2 linked regions of the Homo sapiens genome follow. The protein of the gene in region 1 interacts with the protein of each later gene in a biochemical or structural test. Each region holds a gene or a part of one and is shown on either strand. Other genes may lie near its edges. The genes, in order: NEK9 and BICD2.

Region 1 (3,816 bases):
GGGATTACAGGCGTGAGCCACTGCGCCTGGCTGGGTCTATAGCATTTTAGTAATAGATTACTAATCTTGTACCTGAATACAGGTTATTTTTGCCAGAAATCAGAAGCCTGGGAATAGAGTTGATCTGCTTAGTCAAGCTGTACCATTTGCAACCTGCTAAATGCAATATGGGGATAATATGCCAACTTACTGTAGCATCAAACGTCCTCTTTAAGGTAAGCAGTTCAAAAATGACGCAGCCAACTGCCCAGATATCAGACTTGAAATTGTACTTTACTCCTTGACAGAGCTCTGGAGACATGTAATATGGGGTTCCCACAAGCTGAGCAACAAAGAAACAATCAAAGAATAACTTCTTTTCTGAGGTAACTATGTTAACATTTCAACAGCTTAATTAAATTTCCTAGGAACTAGTCATAACAACCATAAAACATTCATCAGCAGATTCCAAAATGGTTTTTATGAGACGATGCCACTATGGAAAGAAATCTTATTCATATCAAACCTCTTGGGTCAATTATAAAGGGACAATCTCTGTGACAAAGGAACTGTGGTAACTTGAGGGGCTCAATAGCTCTGTGATTCCTAGATCACAGAGGCTTCAGGCATTCAAGGCCTACTGAAGACTTTACACAAACTTAAAGACATACTTAGTAGAAGTTCACCAATGGGAAAAAAATCCAAACACTGGCAGTGGGGAGATGGTAACTCAATGAAGGAATTAGATGTTCTAACTAAAATACGCGCAATGAAACTTTTAAAATGCCCAATTTGGCATCTGTTATACTAACACAGCTAGCGAATTTCCTTTGAATTTGAAAAAGATTTTCTGACTTCAAAAATAAATTTGGAAATAAAAATGTCCTAAGAAGTCATGCCTCTCCCAAGATGAGATATAATGAATGCCCTAGCAGCTCTAATAAAATTCATAGTCAGCTTTAAGCAGCAAAGCAAAGCAAATTTCAGATGGCTTACATGGCTTTTATAAATTTTCATATCATTCCTTCTTTGCATTTAACTAGCTAAAAAAAGTCAAGTCTTGGTTTTATCAGATTGTTCTTGATGAGAAAAATCCATATAAAGATATGATTGCTTCTTCAGAAGCTCACTTTGGCCTCCATCATAGAAACATCTGAGTCCCTGAAGCAGAGACTCCAAACCCTAAACATCTAAATTGCTTGCAGGCAAACCTTGACATTATTAAAAAAAAAATTATTGGCCAAAATCAGTTTTCAATTTCTTTTAAGGACAGAGCATTGTGAAACTAGAAGAATAACAACTGGGTTTTATAATTCCTAAAAGGATAAGATTACTGTCCTAAAGATCAACTTATGTCTACTCTTTACCAATGATCTTTCTCAAAATCATGTGAGAAGGGACCCCTGTGCAGTTCAGACTGTGTATAATATTAAAGAATGGATTGTTCTCTGAGCATCAGCCTTCACTTGAAATATAGGGTTCTCTTTGAACCAGAAGCATTCAAAGGAAAAACAAAGAGATGTCTAACACCTTGAGCTCAAACATTAAATAAGAGATAAAGTGAAATCTACTAAAGATCCTAACCTGGACAAAACAGTAAAGCATTTTGCTGCTTTTAGATAAGTCCCTAATCAGTGCTGGAAAAAGGCTATGAGGTCAGAGCTGTAACGTGGGCAATGACTTAAATGCCTGCTAGTGGGCCCAGGAAAAAGACTTCTGAAGACATGCATTAAAAGTATGGAGAACTTGCAAGAATATTGAGAAAAGTATGCAAGATTTAGGGAGTACAGTTATATTTCACAGTGCTAGAAAATAAAATAAAAATTAAGACAAGGGCAACACATACCGTCTCAGCCATGGAATACTCAGAATTAAGTTTCTTTGCTAGGCCATAATCTCCAAGTTTTATCAGGTTTGCCTTGGTCAGAAAAATATTTAATGTCTTTATATCTCTGAAAAAAAAAGATGCTGCAAATTAAGTTCACACAGATAATTGTTTTATTTCATCCCCCGCCTTGCCCAGGATTATTACAGAATAAAAATGAGTGTGGGCCGGGTACAGTGGCTCACATCTGTAATCTCAGCACTTTGGGAGGGCAAGGCAGGAGTACTGCTTGAGGCCAGGAGTTCTTCACCAGCCTGGGCAACATGGTGAGACCCCATCTCTACAAAAAATAAATTAGTCAGGAGTGGTGGCATACACTTGTAGTCCTAGCTTCTCGGGAGGTTAAAGCACCGAGAATCAGTTGAGCCCAGGAGGCTGAGGCTGCAGTGAGTCATGATTGCACCACTACATTCCAGCCTGGGCAACAGGGTGAGACCCTGTCTCAAAAACTAAAACAAAATAAAACAAAAAAAGAGTGTTACCATTGCTCATTCATTTAGGATATCCTAAACATCCCACAGTGGTCATCACTTTCACATGCTATTTAACACTGAAGTGGGGACTTTAAAGGAGTGAAGGCAGAGAATTAACTTCATCCTCTAGGGCTTCACAGCATAGAAATATCTCCCATACTACTGAAGCTATTAGGAAAAGTTGAGACGGTCAGATGAGGAAAATGGTGCTCTAGGTAACCATAATTCCCATAAGATACCACACCTCTTCAACTATCACTTATGCCTTGAATTAAGTGATATCAAGGCAACTTTAACAAACTTGGTTGGTGTCAAAGTTTCAAATAATCTGTTAAGGCAAGAGAAGAGGCCTACATGTCCCTGCAATGATATGATTAGGCCATTTAGTCATCTAAATAAAATCACAGGCTATTTTTCTAAAGATAAATTGACCATATGTAAAACAAAATAACTGTGCCTGGTTCACTATGTCTTCCTTTATTGAAAGATGCGAATAAACCAGAACAATATACTTTGTTACTTTTAAAAAGAAAATAACAACATGCAACAGAAGCCATTTAATAGCTATCAAGAAATACATGTTAACTGAATGAACAAACCAATAAAAAAAGAAATCTTAGTGTATTATAATTAATCTCTGGCACCAGTCAATGACTCACTTAAGAAGGGCATAATGATGTGAAAATGTTATTGAGATGCTTCTCTTCTATAGCTAGAAATGAATGCAATCATGCTTGTTTTTAAAGATCTGGTAAATTTGTACAAGTAAATATACAGAGTGAAGAGGCTTTTATTTAAATTAAAAGATCTTAATTATAGAATTAAAAAGAATTGCCAATTATTATTGCTGTGAATTCTTACCAAATACTACTTCTCATAGTGCCCTTCTAGGCTTTACTGATGAATTAACAAACTGAACTCTAAAATTTTTGTCTGTAAAATGACTTCAGTAGTACTTGGCTACTGAGGAGACTCTTCCTAGATCATAAACATGGTTTAACCTCAGGGAGTGAAAATAATATTGCTCATTACTTTCCTTTCCTAGTGATATCAATGGAAAAACTCTTGGCTGCTTAACCAAGAAAATAAAAGTGTTGTTGGGGGGGTATCCACGGTAGGGGCTGAATTGGTAGGGAAGAATCCATCCATAATTTTTTTTACTTCTTACCTATGAAGGATTCCAGCTTTATGGATGCAGCTCACTGCTGAAACAATCTGAAATAGGTACCACACCACCATCTGCAGAGAAAAAATAAATATTTGGATTAGAAACAAAAAGCTCCATTTAAGTAAATACACACACACATAAACAAACAAAACAAAGAAAACTGCAACCAGAAGTTATGATTCAACATGACTTGACATCTCTTCCTTGCAGGTTGAGTAGGCAAAGAAAAGTGAAGGGGTAAAAAACCACAAAAAACAGGTTCCTCATAAAATAGTTCCAATGTCATTATAATATATAGTATGGTAAAGCAG
Region 2 (3,816 bases), on another chromosome or scaffold:
CACCCTACTCTGCCTGTCCCCACCTGCCAGGAGCCGGCCCTTGGATAGCACCCTCTCCAAGGACTCTGCTGCCCACCCTTTTGAGGGCACACAGAGCTGTGATCCCTGCAGATTCAAAATCTTGGCTCCATCTGAAAAGTTTTTAAATAAAACAAATTTTAAAAGGTAGGGTTTACATGCCAGATACTGAGAAACTGTGGGATTTTTTCCCCAAGCCCCAGGAAGACAGGACGCTTCCAGAGAAATCCTGGGACTCTTCCTTGTCTGTACCCTGCTCTGGCACGTCCTGCAGGGATACTGAGAAACTGGGAGTGCACGGCACCAGGCTTGAGAGAAGCAGGCCCTATGTGCATGCAGTTCCCACCCTGTCCAGCTCAGATCCTCAGCTTGCTCACCCATAAAAAGGAAACATCTAGGTTATCTGCTGGGCCCATGGTGGGCCTGGCTGTCCCCCATGCAGGGCTGACCCCATGGTGCTATCCCAACATGACCCAGCAGGTGGCGCTACCCATCTTTGGAAAGTGAAAGACAGCGGTACCTGTCAGGGGGCACCTGGGAAGATGCTGAAACCAGGACCTGCCCCACAGAGGCCTGTGAACACTTAGGGAGCCTCGATTCCCAGCCTTGGGGTCTGAGTCCCAGCCAGGGAGGGGTGTGCACCCACCAGGGGCAGCCCACCTCAGAGCCCATTACTAAGAGCCCTCCACAGAGGAAGAAAGAAAGCTGGTCTCCTCCAAGCCCCGGCCCTCTCCTCACCCTCCCCAGATTGGCAAAGTAGAGGATGGGAGGTGAGTACCCAGCGGTCACAATGACGCAGAGGTACAGGGCTATGCACAGAGGTGGGACCCGAACTGTGGACCCCAGCAGTGACCTGCTCCAGCCAGGAGGATAATCTTCCTTCTGAATCTACAAACATAAATACACACTTGTGCCATATGGCCAAGTTCTTGGGGGCAAATACCTCATGAGAGGAAAGGCCAGGACTCCTCTGTCACCTGTTGGCCCCAAGTTAAGTCCCTGTAAATGTTGGATTCAAGGGGTGGGAGCCCAAGCATCCCCTGAAGCTATGCAACTCTGGCCCATCCACTCCAGGATCTGCTCTCCTCAGCCCTTCTGCCCTCAGTCTCCATATATGCAAAGCAGAGACAAGCCTGGGCCTGCTGCGGTTTCATTCACAGCAAAATGGAACCGGCGCCACAGAACCAGGCTCCTGGGGGCTGGGCTAGGTGCAAAAGGAACATTAAAAGGATCACACACGCTCTGCTATCCCCGGCCACATGTGGGCACCTGCCAGGCATGCCCTATGCTCCAGCAACTGCTTGCGTGACCTCGGAGGAAGCTGAGGTGCAGCAGCTAGGGGCCCCCAACCCCATGTGGCCCCCATATCGCCTCACCCTTTCTTGTCACCAACTTGAGCACCAGTGTGCCAGAGATGTGCCAGGGGCCATGCTTCCCCAACCTCGTACCATGCTGGCCCTGATGGAGCTGGGCACAGCCACTGACTAGTCAGGGCTGCAGGCCTCAGCATGAGGCAGTGAGAGGCTAAGGGTTCCAGAGGCAAGTGCTGAGGACAGCTGGCCTTGTGGAAGGGGAGGGCCCGACAGCAGCACGGTTACCTGGTGGCAAACATAGCACGCAGCGAGGAGAAGGTGGCTGCGTCCTCCTTGAGGGCCTTGAGCTCATTGCGCAGCTTCATCATGGTCTCGGTAACCATGGCCTTCTCATTCTCATACTTGCTCTTCAGGTTGGCAAGGGCCACCTCGGCCGTCTGGGGGACAGATGTGTAGGGTGGAAAAGTGAAAGGCGTGAAGTCAGCCTAGAGGTGCTCTGGGAGCAGGATCGGGAGCCCCGGTCTGAAGTGGTGGCAGTGCCTGGGAAGAAAGCTCCTGGGAGGCCCCTCCCTGTGACAAACCCTGGGGATGGACTCCAGCAGCTACGCCATGGGGAGTCCCACCTGCTGATTCTGACTGGCAGAGGAGGGACTGCCCCTAAACCTGCCAACAGGACCTCCACGAAGCCCCACAATTGCTCTCCACAGCTCAGACTATGGCTCTCACATGTTTTCCCTCCAGTATCAGGAAGCACTACGAGGCAGTCACAGTGAGTCAAGGGCAGCGGCATTTCTCACTGGCTGAGCAGCTCTGCTGAGGGGCCCTCACACCCACCTGCCTGCTCCACCCTCCCAGCTGGGGGCCCTGAGCAGGGGAGGGTAGGCAGTCGAGCTACTATGGGGCTGGCTCTGTCTGGTGGTGACGCAGGCCTGGGGGGGCCCCGTGGCAGGGGGAGGAAGGAGGCCAAGGGGGAAACACCCTTAGGCCAGTAGTAGGTGACATGTGCCCCTGCTGCCTGGCACCTCACCTGCTTGTTGGCCTTGAGCACAGTGCGCAGCGTGGTGATCTGCTCCCGCTTGGTGCTGAGCAGCGACTTCAGCTTGAGGATCTCCTCCATAAGCGCTTCCTTGTCCTTGTCCACGGCGGGGCCCAGCTCCTGAGAGGCAATGCGCTGGCGTGACAGCTCCGTGGTGCGGTCCACGGCTGCCTGCAGGTGCTTGATCTGGTCACGGATGATAGCGATCAGGTTGTAGATGTTCATGGGCTCCCGGCGTGGGTCACTCAGGGGTGATGGCAGTGAGGAGCCAGGCGAGGGGCTGCTGTCCCCCGTCCCACCATCTGCTCGGCCCGCCTCAGGAGCCAGCAGCCCCTTGGGTAGGAGGATGGGTGAGCGCCGGCCACGCGCCTCGGGGCTGGTGCGGCCCCCGGGACTGGTGCGGCCGGCCCCGCCCTGGCCCTCGCGGTAGTAGTCCAGCATGACACGGTTGGGTGTCTCATTGTTGCACATGCACACGTGGTGGTAGAGATTGGCCAGCTCCTCACTGAAGGTCACCAGCTCATCCTGGGCCACACTCAGGCTGCCCTGTGTCTCGCCGGCGACGTCGCTCACCTTCTTTAGCTCCTTCTCCAGCCGGGCCAGCAGCTCGCGGTCCTGGCGGCTGGCCTTCTCTAGCAGGGAGACCTTCTCCGTGAGTGCCTGGCCCTCAGCCTCATAGCGGCCCTTCTCCTCGGCGTGCTGGGCCTCACGAGCCTCGTGCGTGCTGCGCAGTGCCTTGAGCTGCTCGCGGAGCTCGCCAGCCTCAGCCACAGCCACATGGTACTTGCAGGCCAAGATCTCAGGCCCGTTGATGTCCACCTCGTAGTAGTCCCCATCCTCATGGCTGTCACGGTCCTTCTCGTTGTCCAGGGCTGTCTGCCGCTCCTTGCTGGCCTGCAGGCGCCGCAGGGCACTCAGATTCTCTGTGAGGCGGGTCACCTTCTCCTGCTGTTCTGACAGGGAGCCCCGCGTGTGCTCCAGCTGCTTCTGTGTGTCCTGCAGCGTTGCCAGCAGGCCCGCCTTTTCCCGCTCCATCTGCAAAGGCACAGGCAGCAGGACACCATGTCAGTTGCTATGGACCCCGAGAGCTTGGAGGACCCCCAAGATGGCCTAGTGACATCCCACCCCATGTCAGGGCAGGCTGTCAGCCCCAGGTTCCTTGGCCATGCTGTCAGTGAGGTGGACAAAGACACACAGGGTGTGGAAAGAATGGAATTCATGCTGGGCCCTCAGAACACTAACCGTCACCAGTAATGGTGGTCACCCTCAACGCAGGCTCTTTCCCCAACCATGCTACAGGGGATCTGGGCTAAGAAAGTGGAGCTCTAGGCTGGCTGGGTGTGTAGTCGGGAATATTAGCACCCTAGCCCTCTGCTTCGGAGGACAGGACTCTGTTGCCTTGGATCAACAGGGATCCATGTCCCAGGGGATGAGCCCAAGCATGACCAT

What was found.
Region 2: of the proteins of NEK9 (region 1) and BICD2, one has a biochemical effect on the other in vitro, tested with the Homo sapiens proteins (one study listed by BioGRID).

Annotation. Positions count from the first base shown.
Region 1 is NC_000014.9:75,117,005-75,120,820, forward strand, and holds part of NEK9 (serine/threonine-protein kinase Nek9), read right to left. Parts: intron 3,577-3,816; coding exon 3,506-3,576; intron 1,932-3,505; coding exon 1,826-1,931; intron 323-1,825; coding exon 191-322; intron 1-190.
Region 2 is NC_000009.12:92,716,181-92,719,996, forward strand, and holds part of BICD2 (protein bicaudal D homolog 2), read right to left. Parts: intron 3,403-3,816; coding exon 2,359-3,402; intron 1,769-2,358; coding exon 1,617-1,768; intron 1-1,616. UniProt on the Homo sapiens protein: Acts as an adapter protein linking the dynein motor complex to various cargos and converts dynein from a non-processive to a highly processive motor in the presence of dynactin.